3 linked regions of the Homo sapiens genome follow. The protein of the gene in region 2 purifies or fractionates together with the protein of the main gene of each other region. This does not show direct contact. Each region holds a gene or a part of one and is shown on either strand. Other genes may lie near its edges.

The links.
Region 1: the proteins of PRDM9 (region 2) and CDC14C purify together in Homo sapiens (affinity purification with mass spectrometry, with the first as the bait; one large-scale study listed by BioGRID). This does not show direct contact.
Region 3: the proteins of PRDM9 (region 2) and GRHPR purify together in Homo sapiens (affinity purification with mass spectrometry; one large-scale study listed by BioGRID and IntAct). This does not show direct contact.

The regions. Positions count from the first base shown.
Region 1 is NC_000007.14:48,923,243-48,927,433, forward strand, and holds the start of CDC14C (dual specificity protein phosphatase CDC14C), read left to right. Parts: upstream 1-1,304; 5' UTR 1,305-1,430; coding exon 1,431-2,774; 3' UTR 2,775-4,191.
Region 2 is NC_000005.10:23,517,580-23,521,228, forward strand, and holds part of PRDM9 (histone-lysine N-methyltransferase PRDM9 isoform PRDM9 B), read left to right. Parts: intron 1-301; coding exon 302-351; intron 352-3,443; coding exon 3,444-3,600; intron 3,601-3,649. UniProt on the Homo sapiens protein: Histone methyltransferase that sequentially mono-, di-, and tri-methylates both 'Lys-4' (H3K4) and 'Lys-36' (H3K36) of histone H3 to produce respectively trimethylated 'Lys-4' (H3K4me3) and trimethylated 'Lys-36' (H3K36me3) histone H3 and plays a key role in meiotic prophase by determining hotspot localization thereby promoting meiotic recombination.
Region 3 is NC_000009.12:37,425,566-37,429,214, forward strand, and holds part of GRHPR (glyoxylate reductase/hydroxypyruvate reductase), read left to right. Parts: intron 1-356; coding exon 357-429; intron 430-972; coding exon 973-1,089; intron 1,090-2,918; coding exon 2,919-3,007; exon of another isoform or gene 3,008-3,276; coding exon of another isoform or gene 3,277-3,367; intron 3,368-3,649. UniProt on the Homo sapiens protein: Enzyme with hydroxy-pyruvate reductase, glyoxylate reductase and D-glycerate dehydrogenase enzymatic activities. Reduces hydroxypyruvate to D-glycerate, glyoxylate to glycolate, oxidizes D-glycerate to hydroxypyruvate.

The sequences.
Region 1 (4,191 bases), on a different chromosome or scaffold from region 2:
AAGAACCAGGTCTCTAGCAAAGAGCAAACATTCAGTAAATTGTTTCTGAATCTATTAATAAATGATAAGAAAAGGCAAGGGAAATCAACATCCTCACTGCATGCCTTCAGACGTGTGTTTCCTATCAGATACGGGTATTCCAACAGAAACTGGAGAAAAGAAAATACAATGCATTCACTGGACAGAAATATTGTGGACGGGGGGCAAGCATTGGGACAGTGGTGAGCAAAATTATTCTTGAGGTCCCCATTAATCAAAATATTTGTGGCATCCAGAAGCTTGAATCTTTAAGGACAAATATGAATCTTTACCCATCTTCTTTTACTCTTCTCTCCTTTCTCCTAAACTAACTCTAATATATACATTTACTTTTAAAATTTCATAAAGCCTATCTAATTGGGAATTTAGGTCTCACTCCTTGTGGACACCAGAAGGATATAAATGATTAGGGGAAATCCCACCAAACAGAAAGGGCAAGAAGATGTATGAATGAGTAGTAAGCTCAAGAACAACCCATCAGTCCTCTTCTTTATTTTACCCCCAAACCAAAACTTAGGGATGAAGCTTCACGAAGCTCTCTTTTGTGAAGGAGAGAGGCCTGTTCCGTTGCCAAGGAGTGCAAAGCTGCACATTGGCTTTGGGATGACATTGGGTATAAAATTTATCACTTGTGATATCCCTGTGTGATCTTCTACACACATTGTTTAGCTTCTCCAAGACTTTTCTTTGGAAAGCCCACATAGAACAGAAAAAAGAAATGCCATCTTTTAAACTATCTATTTAACTATCTTGTGGCCCCATGTTTCCAAGGTTGGGGTATTGGGAGAGTTGGTGAAAGAGCAATATGTCAACATTAACTTGTCTCCAAGCAGGCATGACTTTCAATATCAAATGGTCACAACCTCCAACTTTTAATGGATCCTAAATGAGTGCTTCAAAAATACTGTCATTTGGTAATAAAGTCATACTCGAAGTAACACTTATTTGGCTGAATTTCCAGAGACTGGAGAGAAGGTTAAGATCCAGGTGGTTGCTATGACAAGAGCATGATGACTTATTCATCCAACACTTTGTTGATGTCAGTATGATATAGCCCTTCAGTTCATGGTTTAAAAAAGCAAAGGGAGGGCGGTTGCGGGAGGGAGCGGGGCAGGCGCTGTGGGCCAGGCCCCTCCTCTGGCTCCTGCACCACCGCCTCTTTTCGGGCTCCGCCGGCTCCCGCCGTCCCTGCAATGCCGCTCTGTGCCCGCCGTCCTGAGAGCCCGCGCGGCACTGGCGCCAGCCTTGGCGGCGCGCGCGGGGCCGTGGTCGTTGCTCCCTGACTGGCCGCGGCGGCCTCCAGGAAGCGGAAAAGCAAGGGGCGGTCGAGCTGGGCCGCCGCGCCCCACTGCTCGCCGCGCTGCTCTTTGACCTCGCAGGGTGTGAAGAAGATGCGCAGCTCCACGCTGCAGGACCCGCGCCGCCGGGACCCCCAGGACGACGTGTACGTGGACATCACCGATCGCCTTCGTTTTGCCATTCTCTACAGCAGACCAAAGAGTGCATCAAATGTACATTATTTCAGCATAGATAATGAACTCGAATATGAGAACTTCTCCGAAGACTTTGGACCACTCAATCTGGCAATGGTTTACAGATATTGTTGCAAGATAAATAAGAAATTAAAGTCCATTACAATGTTAAGGAAGAAAATTGTTCATTTTACTGGCTCTGATCAGAGAAAACAAGCAAATGCTGCCTTCCTTGTTGGATGCTACATGGTTATATACTTGGGGAGAACCCCAGAAGCAGCATATAGAATATTAATCTTTGGAGATACACCCTATATTCCTTTCAGAGATGCTGCCTATGGAAGCTGCAATTTCTACATTACACTTCTTGACTGTTTTCATGCAGTAAAGAAGGCAATGCAGTATGGCTTCCTTAATTTCAACTCATTTAACCTTGATGAATATGAACACTATGAAAAAGCAGAAAACGGAGATTTAAATTGGATAATACCAGACCGATTTATTGCCTTCTGTGGACCTCATTCAAGAGCCAGACTTGAAAGTGGTTACCACCAACATTCTCCCGAGACTTATATTCAATATTTTAAGAATCACAATGTTACTACCATTATTCGTCTGAATAAAAGGATGTATGATGCCAAACGCTTTACGGATGCTGGCTTCGATCACCATGATCTTTTCTTTGCGGATGGCAGCACCCCTACTGATGCCATTGTCAAAAGATTTCTGGATATCTGTGAAAATGCTGAGGGTGCCATTGCAGTACATTGTAAAGCTGGCCTTGGTCGCACAGGCACTCTGATAGCCTGCTACATCATGAAGCATTACAGGATGACAGCAGCCGAGACCATTGCGTGGGTAAGGATCTGCAGACCTGGCTTGGTGATCGGGCCTCAGCAGCAGTTTTTGGTGATGAAGCAAACAAGCCTCTGGCTGGAAGGGGACTATTTTCGTCAGAGGTTAAAGGGGCAGGAGAATGGACAACACAGAGCAGCCTTCTCCAAACTTCTCTCTGGTGTTGATGACATTTCCATAAATGGGGTCGAGAATCAAGACCAGCAAGAACCCAAACCTTACAGTGATGACGACGAAATCAATGGAGTGACACAAGGTGATAGAAGTCGGGCCCTGAAAAGGCGAAGACAATCAAAAACAAACGATATTCTTCTCCCATCTCCCCTGGCTGTGCTGACCTTTACACTGTGTAGTGTTGTCATCTGGTGGATTGTTTGTGACTACATTCTTCCCATCCTGCTATTCTGACTCAAAGATTTCAGAACATAGTAGCCATCAGGACCCCCTGACAGATAGCTGCTTCTCTCCATTTCAAGGACTAAAATGGTTTTGCATTAAGTAAAAACCTGTGACCAGAACTGAAGGAAGACTCTAGGAACTGAAAACTGCAACAGAAATTAGCACAATTTGAAAACAAAACAAAATTGCAAAAGACTTAGTTGCTTTCCACCTAAGAAGCTAATCAATGGGGAAAATGTCCACGGGGTTTCAGTAATGAACTTTTGAGTTTGGGTGCAAGCAAATGTACCAAGACCAGCTCAGTCAGGGAGACCCTACCCCAGTGGTGCTAGAGGAATTAAAGACACACACACAGAAATACAGAGGTGTAAAGTGGGAAATCAGGGGTCTCACAGCCTTCAGAGCTGAGAGCCCCGAACAGAGATTTACCCACATATTGATTAACAGCAAACAAGTCATTAGCATTGTTTCTATAGATATTAAATTAACTAAAAGTATCCCTTATGGGAAACGAAGGGATGGGCCTAATTAAAGGCATAGGTTGGGCTAGTTAACTGCGGCAGGAGCACGTCCTTAAGGCACAGATGGCTCATGCTATTGTTTGTGGCTTAAGAATGCCTTTAAGCAGTTTTCCACTCTGGGCTGGGTGGGCCAGGTGTTCCTTGCCCTCATTCCGGTAAACCCACACCCTTCCAGCGTGGGCATTAGGGCCATTATGAACATGTTACAGTGCTGCAGAGATTTTATTTATGGCCAGTTTTGGGGCCAGTTTATGGCTGGATTTTGGGGGGCTTGCTCCCAAAAAGAATGACTCAAAGAAAGGCCCAGCTCTCAAGCTGAATGACAAAAATGCTGTTGTAAATTTAGTCTCAGGTGTAAATACCCAAGCCCTCTGGTACTCAGGGAGCTGGCTGGTCTGTGGTGCATGTGTGTCCTTGTGATGGCAAGCATTGTAGTTGATGGCCTTCAGAAGAATTGAGGATCTGATGGAGGTTTTTTAATGTATTTATTTTCTGTTCAGCTTGTGACCCTGTGTCAAAATTTGTAAAGATACAAAAGGCATTACTGAAATGGTACTTTCTGTAATTTGATACTATTTGGCTTTACCATCTTCACTTGACTGTTTGTAATACTGTAGTAATATTAACTCTGATAAGTACCCAAGCTGCTTGTCTTCTACCAAAGAGTGCTTTATTAACAAGAATCTGTGAAAACCACATTTTAAACACTGTTGCATGTTGTAATACCAGGTGATACCTTGGTAACCTAAAACTTGCAAGAGAATATTAGTGGTAGCTTTAGAAGACTCAGGAGGAGAAACTGACTTCAGAGCTGGAAGATGTTGCAAGTCATTCCTTTTTCTGTCCTTTAGGGACTGAAGAACTGGGAGGTTGCCCATTGTTTGGTTGCCAGTCATACAAATTAA
Region 2 (3,649 bases):
GTTTGAGACCAGCATCGCCAACATGGAGAAACCCTATCTCTACTAAAAATACAAAAATTAGCCGGGTGTGGTGGCGTACACCTGTAGTTCCCAACAACTCACAAGGCTGAGGCAGGAGAATCGCTTGAATCCGGGAGAGGGAGGTTGCAGTGAGTGGAGATTGAGCCACTGCACTCCAGCCTGGGCGACAGAGGGAGACTCCGTCTCAAAAATAAAAAATAAAAATAAAAAATAGAAGAGAGAATCTCTAGTGTTTGGAAACATTTACCAACCAAACCACTGATTTCTCATCACCTTTTAGTCAAACCTCCTTGGATGGCCTTAAGAGTGGAACAGCGTAAACACCAGAAGGTAAGTATTTCCCAAATCCTATTGACAAGAAACCTTCCTCATGGATCCAAACACAGGTAAGAGGAGGAGAATGTACAGACTATCATAGGAACTAATGCCTTCTTTTCCTGATCTCTTTAGCACAGTGTCTGACATCATCATTATTTTAAGAGTTAATAAGAACAGCAACAATAATTGCTACCATGGTGTTATTTTCTCAGTATTTTCAGACTCTATTTTAAGCATTTTACATGAATAAACTTTACATATAGTTCCTATTCAACTTTATATATAGTACCTATTAAGTAGATGTTGTAACTATAGCCATTTTACAGATGAGAAAACTGAGGTATAAAAATGTTCAGTTATATCCCTGGGATCACATTCAGTGTTGGTGCAGTCTAATCCAAAACTCCTTCTCTAAAGCACTTACAAGATCATTAACACAAGATCATTAAAAGTTTCATAGTTTTATAAAGTTTATGCTGTCTTACCCATATGTGTTACATCATTCGTCCAACTGACTTTTTAACCTCAGTTTTTCTCTGTTATGGTAAAGTGAGATTTGCACTGAAACACTCTGATTAAGGGAAGCTTCCAAGTAAATAGACAGTTCATACTGTGTTTGGTCCCAGAAGGAGATAGGGTCCCTACCCTCATAAGGGACCCATTCTGATCAGAGGAAGCAGCTTCCAGCCCTGAGGAGTTTCAGCTTTGAAGACTGAGAAACAACAAATAAGAAAATGGTTTAAGACTTCATATAGGTTACATCCTATTAAGTAAAAATATATTCTTCTGGAACTGATTTCAAATTCTCATTCCTACAGAAGGCAGTAACAGCTCCTTCCTCTGGGCTCCAATTAGGGAACTGTCATGTTGTTTGGAATTATTTGTTTAGCCTGCCTGCTGCCTCTTCATTGTGAGCTCTTCAGGAGTCTGGTCCATATCTGATTCTTCTCAGAACTCCCAAGCCCAGATCAGGGCCTCTGAGAGCCTCCTTAGTGTTTTCTGAATGACTGATTCCAAGTTTATGAATTAAACTATAAGTAACAGGGTCAAGGAATGCTGAAAATATCTTTGAGTTAGATTTCAACTGTAGAGATGTTATCAGGACTATGAGATAATTTTCATTTGTTTGTTATTTTTCTGGGTGGTGGTGGGGTGATTTGAGACAGAGTCTGGCTCTTTCGCCCAGGCTGGAGTGCAATGACTCAATCTCGGCTTACTGCAGCCTCCATCTCCTAGATTAGTGCGATCCTCCTGCCTCAGCCTCCTGAGTAGCTGGGACCATAGGCATGCACCACCATGCCCAGCTGATTTTTACGTTTTTTGTAGAGACAGGGTTTTGCCATGTAGCTCAGGCTGGTCTTGAACTACTGGGCTCAAGCCATCCTCCCACCTTGGCCTCCCAAAGTGCTGGGATTACATATGTGAGCCATTGCACCCAGTCTGTGAGAAAAATTCTTTTCTTTTGTTGAGACAGAGTTTCACTCTTGTCACCCAGGCTGGAGTGCAGTGGAGTGATCTCGGCTCACTTTAACCTCCCCCTCCTGGGTTCAAGTTGTTCTCCTGCCTCAGCCTCCCAAGTAGCTGGGATTACAGGCACCCGCCACCACACCTGGCTAGTTTTTTGTATTTTTTGTAGATATGGGGTTGGCTAGACTGGTCTCAAAACTCCTGACCTGAGGTGATCCGCCTGCCTTGGCCTCCCAAAGTGCTGGGATTACAGGTGTGAGCCACTGCACCTGGTGAGAAAAATTATTAATCTCACATTCATACTGTATTAAGTAGTTCAAAAAACACTTTGGTGAACATTATTATCTTTCATGTTCACTACAATATTAAGAATTAGCGCCAGGGGCAGTGGCTTACACCTGTAATCCCAGCACTTTGAGAGGTGGAGGTGGGCAGATCACCCGAAGTCAGGAGTTCGAGACCAGCCTGGCCAACATGGTGAAACCCCATCTCTACTAAAACTACAAAAATCAGCTGGGCATGGTGGTGGACACCTGTAATCCCAACTACTCAGGAGCCTGAAGCAGGAGAATCGCTTGAACCCGGGAGGTGAAGGCTGCAGTGAGCTGAGATCGTGCCACTGCACTCCAGCTTAGGCAACAAAGTGAGACTCCCTCTCAAAAAAATAAAAAAAAAAAAGAATTAGCATGGTCTGATGGTCTGAGTGTGGGGGCTCATGCCTATAATCCCAGCACTTTGGGAGGTTGAGGTGGGTGGATCACTTGAGGTGAGGAGTTCGAGACCATCCTGGCCAACCTAGTGAAACCCCGTCTCTAATAAATATACAAAAATTAGCTGGGTATGGTGGCACATGCCTGTAATCCTAGCTTCTCGGGAGGCTGAGGTAGAAGAATCTCTTGAACTTGGGAGGTGGAGGCTGCAGTGAGCTGATATCGTGCCACTGCACTTCAGCCTAGGCAACAGAGCGAGACTCCTTCTCAAAAAAAAAAAAAAAAAAAAAAGCATGTATGCCAATTTCTGGATCAGGAAACTAAAGAGAATTAGCTAACAATACACCCTTATTCAAGCAGACAAGCAGAAGTGGTACAGGAACTAATTAATCTAATTCCAAAGCCAAATATTCTTTCCAGGATATGGCAACATGCAACTTTGACATCATTTTCTTGGTTGTCTAGATATATTTTTGCCAATCGTCTCTTTGTTCTGTTCCCAATCTTACTGCTCTATTACCTCATTTTCCAGAAGTGCTTTGTCCCTCTGTGCTTCTCTACATTTCCCCTTCTATCAAAAGTCTACTAGTTTATGGAAGATTCCCTCCTTCTCTTTGTAAGCCCTTACCCCCTTCTTTCACAGATCTTGTTGATTCTCCAGCTAGTCTTCCCAAGTATTCCTCCTCCTTCCCTTTGACTTACATAGAACATTTTAGAGAAAGTTGAAGGAAAGAGCCTTAAGACATGGGTTAGAGTCCCAGATTCACTACTCACTTAGACCTTCTCTTTTCCCTCTAGTATTTAGACACTCTAGGTATTTTCAAGGTTTGAACATTAACTAGAGTCATGCATATGAAAACATGTTGCAAGCCGTAAAGAACTAAAGAAATTCGTGTTGTCTTTTAATATGTGACTCTCACATTAAAGGGAATGCCCAAGGCGTCATTCAGTAATGAATCTAGTTTGAAAGAATTGTCAAGAACAGCAAATTTACTGAATGCAAGTGGCTCAGAGCAGGCTCAGAAACCAGTGTCCCCTTCTGGAGAAGCAAGTACCTCTGGACAGCACTCAAGACTAAAACTGGGTAAGAAAAAATATTTGCGGGGACTTTAGTCCCTCTATGTCCTCTAGAA
Region 3 (3,649 bases), on a different chromosome or scaffold from region 2:
TCCCAGCCACCTTCTTGGCACTCTCAGAGGTGTCCATGGGGGAGGCCCCAGCGTGGCTAAAGAAGACCGGAGGCCTCGCTGGGTGGACAGTCCAGTGGGTAAGAGCGGGGCCTTGGTGGCAGAGGCCCTGAGGTGAACCCGGCTCTGCCTGTGACTGAGCCAGGCCACTTAACCTCCCTGAACTGCAGTGTCTGAGGCTGTCAAAGGGGATTATTCAGAGTTTTAACTGAAGAACAGAGATGTCAGCCTCTTATTCTAAGAAAACAATAATAAGCGGTGTCCCCATGATAGTCCCCAGTGCTGTGGCTTTGAGTTCCTCGAGGAAAGATACTAACAATGCACTTTCTGCACAACAGGGGCCAATCTCAAAGTCATCAGCACCATGTCTGTGGGCATCGACCACTTGGCTTTGGATGAAATCAAGAAGCGGTAACTGCAGCTTGGGATCTGGAGGGGGCCTAGAGAGAGGGGTGGCTATGAGAGAAAGAAGAGCTGTTGATTTGTTTTTACTGCATATCCCTCGGCCATTCAGGGAGAATGTGAGGTGGCTGATGATAGAATCTGTCCACATGTGCACAGGTCAGTTACAATAAACCCCAGCAGTCAGAAACAGTGGGTAACTTCTGTGTAGGTGGCACCCTTTCACATTCATTATCTTTTTTGATCCCCACAACAATACCTTGAAGTAGCAAAGGCAGGTGTTATTCTTTCTGTTTCAGATGAGGAAATTCAGAAAGGTTAAGTTACTTGTTCAGTCCCTGAACCCTGATCTTCCATCTTCATATCCTTCCAAAGTGGGAGATAATCTAAATAGGAATGAGGACTGCCCGTTTTTGAGTGCTCATTTATAGTTCTGAGCTTCCTGGCAGGCAGATCAAAGAGGGAGCAAAGTAACTCCATGGAAATGTCCCAGCAGTAGACATTGGTAAATATGGTTGAGGCTGATGTTACCACCAGATGTCTGATTCGTAGTGGGATCCGAGTTGGCTACACCCCAGATGTCCTGACAGATACCACCGCCGAACTCGCAGTCTCCCTGCTACTTACCACCTGCCGCCGGTTGCCGGAGGCCATCGAGGAAGTGAAGAAGTAAGTGAACGCAGACCAGGTGCGGTGGCTCACGGCTGTAATCCCAGCACTTTGGGAGGCCAAAGTGAGCGGATCATGAGGTTAGGAGTTCGAGACCAGTCTGGCCAACATAGTGAAACCCCGTCTCTAGTAAAAATACAAAAAAAATTAGCTGGGTGTGGTGGTGGGTCCCTGTAATCCCAGCTACTTGGGAGGCTGAGGCAGGAGAATCATGTGAACCCAGGAGACAGAGGTTGCAGTGAGCTGAGATCACACCATTGCACTCCAGCCCAGGTGACGGTGTGAGACTCTGTCTCAAAAAAAAAAAGAAAAATAAGTGAACGCCTGGCAGGAACGTTGGCTCTGCTCAGCACTGGATCCTGATCACTGTGCCAGTCCAGCCCACGCATAGTCCCTGACCCCAGGTGTGCCCCATTGAGTGAGGACTCAGCTAAAATAAAGCACAAAGCAGAGCTGCAATAAGGGCAGAAAGGGAAGTGGTGAGAGAAGAGGATGAGGGAGGACAAACAAGTTCTGCTGGTGGGTGAGGGCTGGCAGGGAGAGTGTGGATCAGGGAGGGCTTCACAGAATAAGTAGCAGGTGGGCGTCCGCTTGAGTCCTGAAAGCTGCAGGTCCACCATCCCTTAGATCCCAAAATCTAAAAAGCTCGGACAGCTGAAAGTTCTTTCATACTAACAGGAGACTATTTAAGGCTTTTATTTCTCCCATTTAATGTGACTTTCCTAAGTTTTGCTGCAGATGTAACACTTTTAAAACAGGCTGCTGCCCAGACACTGCAGAGGGTGATGTGTGGAATCTACCACGTGCGCCATGCTGCCTTTCTAAAGGCCAAACAGTTTTAAAATCTAGCCTGAAGGTTTCAGATCAGGGATTTCGGCCTGTATATCAAGAGTTAGAGTTGGCCGGGCACGGTGGCTCACACCTGTAATCCCAGCACTTTGGGAGGCCGAGGCGGGCAGATTGTTTGAGCCTCAGGAGTTGGAGAACAGCTTGGGCAATGTGGCAAAAGTCTGTCTCTACAAAAAATACAAAAATTAGGCAGGCGTGGTGTTACACGCCTGTAGTCCCAACTACTCGGGAGGCTGAGGTGGGAGGATTGCTTGAACCCAGGAGGCAGAGGCTGCAGTGAACCGAGATCATGTCACTGTACTCCAGTCTGGGCGACACAGCAAGACCCTGTCTCCAAAAAAAAAAAAAAAAAAAGTTGGGGGAAGCATTCCATGTGCAGATGGAGGGACTGGCCCGAGTCAAGGTGGGAGGCGTGCAAACGCAGGCTCTCACAGTGCGTGGCCAGCAGCGTGGGCCCCGGCACGGGGCATGGAGCAGAGTAGACAGTGCTGAGTCCTGCTCACTGTCCTGTCTGGGGAGTCATCACATCTACTGGAGGTGGCTCAGGGCAGGCTCCATCTCTTGCCCAGGGCAGCAGGGTGGGCCCTGTGGCTGTACTCTTTGTTGCTGCCCTAAAGTGCCAAGAGAACTTGTTTTGGAATCATAAATCCTGAGTTTGCAGCCTGTTGCTCTCAACTCTTCCCTGGTTGTGTGACCTCAGGCAAGTCACCCTTTCTGGTTTGTTTTCCCATCTGCAAAACAGGATGAGAGCCAGTAAGGCCCCTTCCCGCCCTCAAGTTCTATGTCTCTGGTGGCTTTAAAGGTGGAGTCGTTTCTGCTGCTCATCTGCAGTGCCGAGTGGCAGTGCCTCATCCCACTCTCAGTCCGTGACCTGGAGGGTGGGTTTATACCTTGGACCACAGTCAGAGGTGCCGGGTTCTCAGCGGCCCCCATCTTGGTCCAAGGCTGGGCCTCTCACCTGCCCCTCTCTCTCCCCTCAGTGGTGGCTGGACCTCGTGGAAGCCCCTCTGGCTGTGTGGCTATGGACTCACGCAGAGCACTGTCGGCATCATCGGGCTGGGGCGCATAGGTGAGGCTCCCACCGGCCCGCTTGCCCGCCCCGGCTCTCACAGCGTGGTTTGCATCCCTGGCACCACGTGTCTGAAGGCTGAGAAGACCCACATGCTGTCAGGGCACTTTGCTTGCAGTAGAGATATCTCTAATGAGGGATACAGCTTTGTAAAACACAGGCAAATACATAAATAAACCAAAGCAGGATTCCTTAAGAACTCACCAGGTGATAAAAGCAAGTTGCCTAAGGGTCAGGGGGCTTCATGATTCCGGCTCCATAAAGAACAGATGAAGACTACAAATGTGTTGGGGCCGTTAGGAGTGGTTACCGTGAGAGAGCCCATTCCCCCGACACCTACTCCGGCTTGCGTTCTGGAAGGTATGTGACTCACAAAGCCCTAACTCGGGCCGGAGGGCTCAGTGGGCAGAGTTGATCTGCAGTTCTGCAGATGAGGCAGAGACACTTTTCTTCCAGTGGCCCTTATTTGGAGAAGCCTGGCAGAAGGGCGTGAGCCTAGCCAAGCAGCTATCTATTGGTGGTTCTCTGTCATCCTGCCTGGTGCAGGGGTGCGGGTGAGGGTGGAGAGTGTGGAGAACCTGTCTAGCCAACGAACAGCCCTGCCTCTCACTAGAGAGTTGCTTGGAGGAACCCAACAGCTTT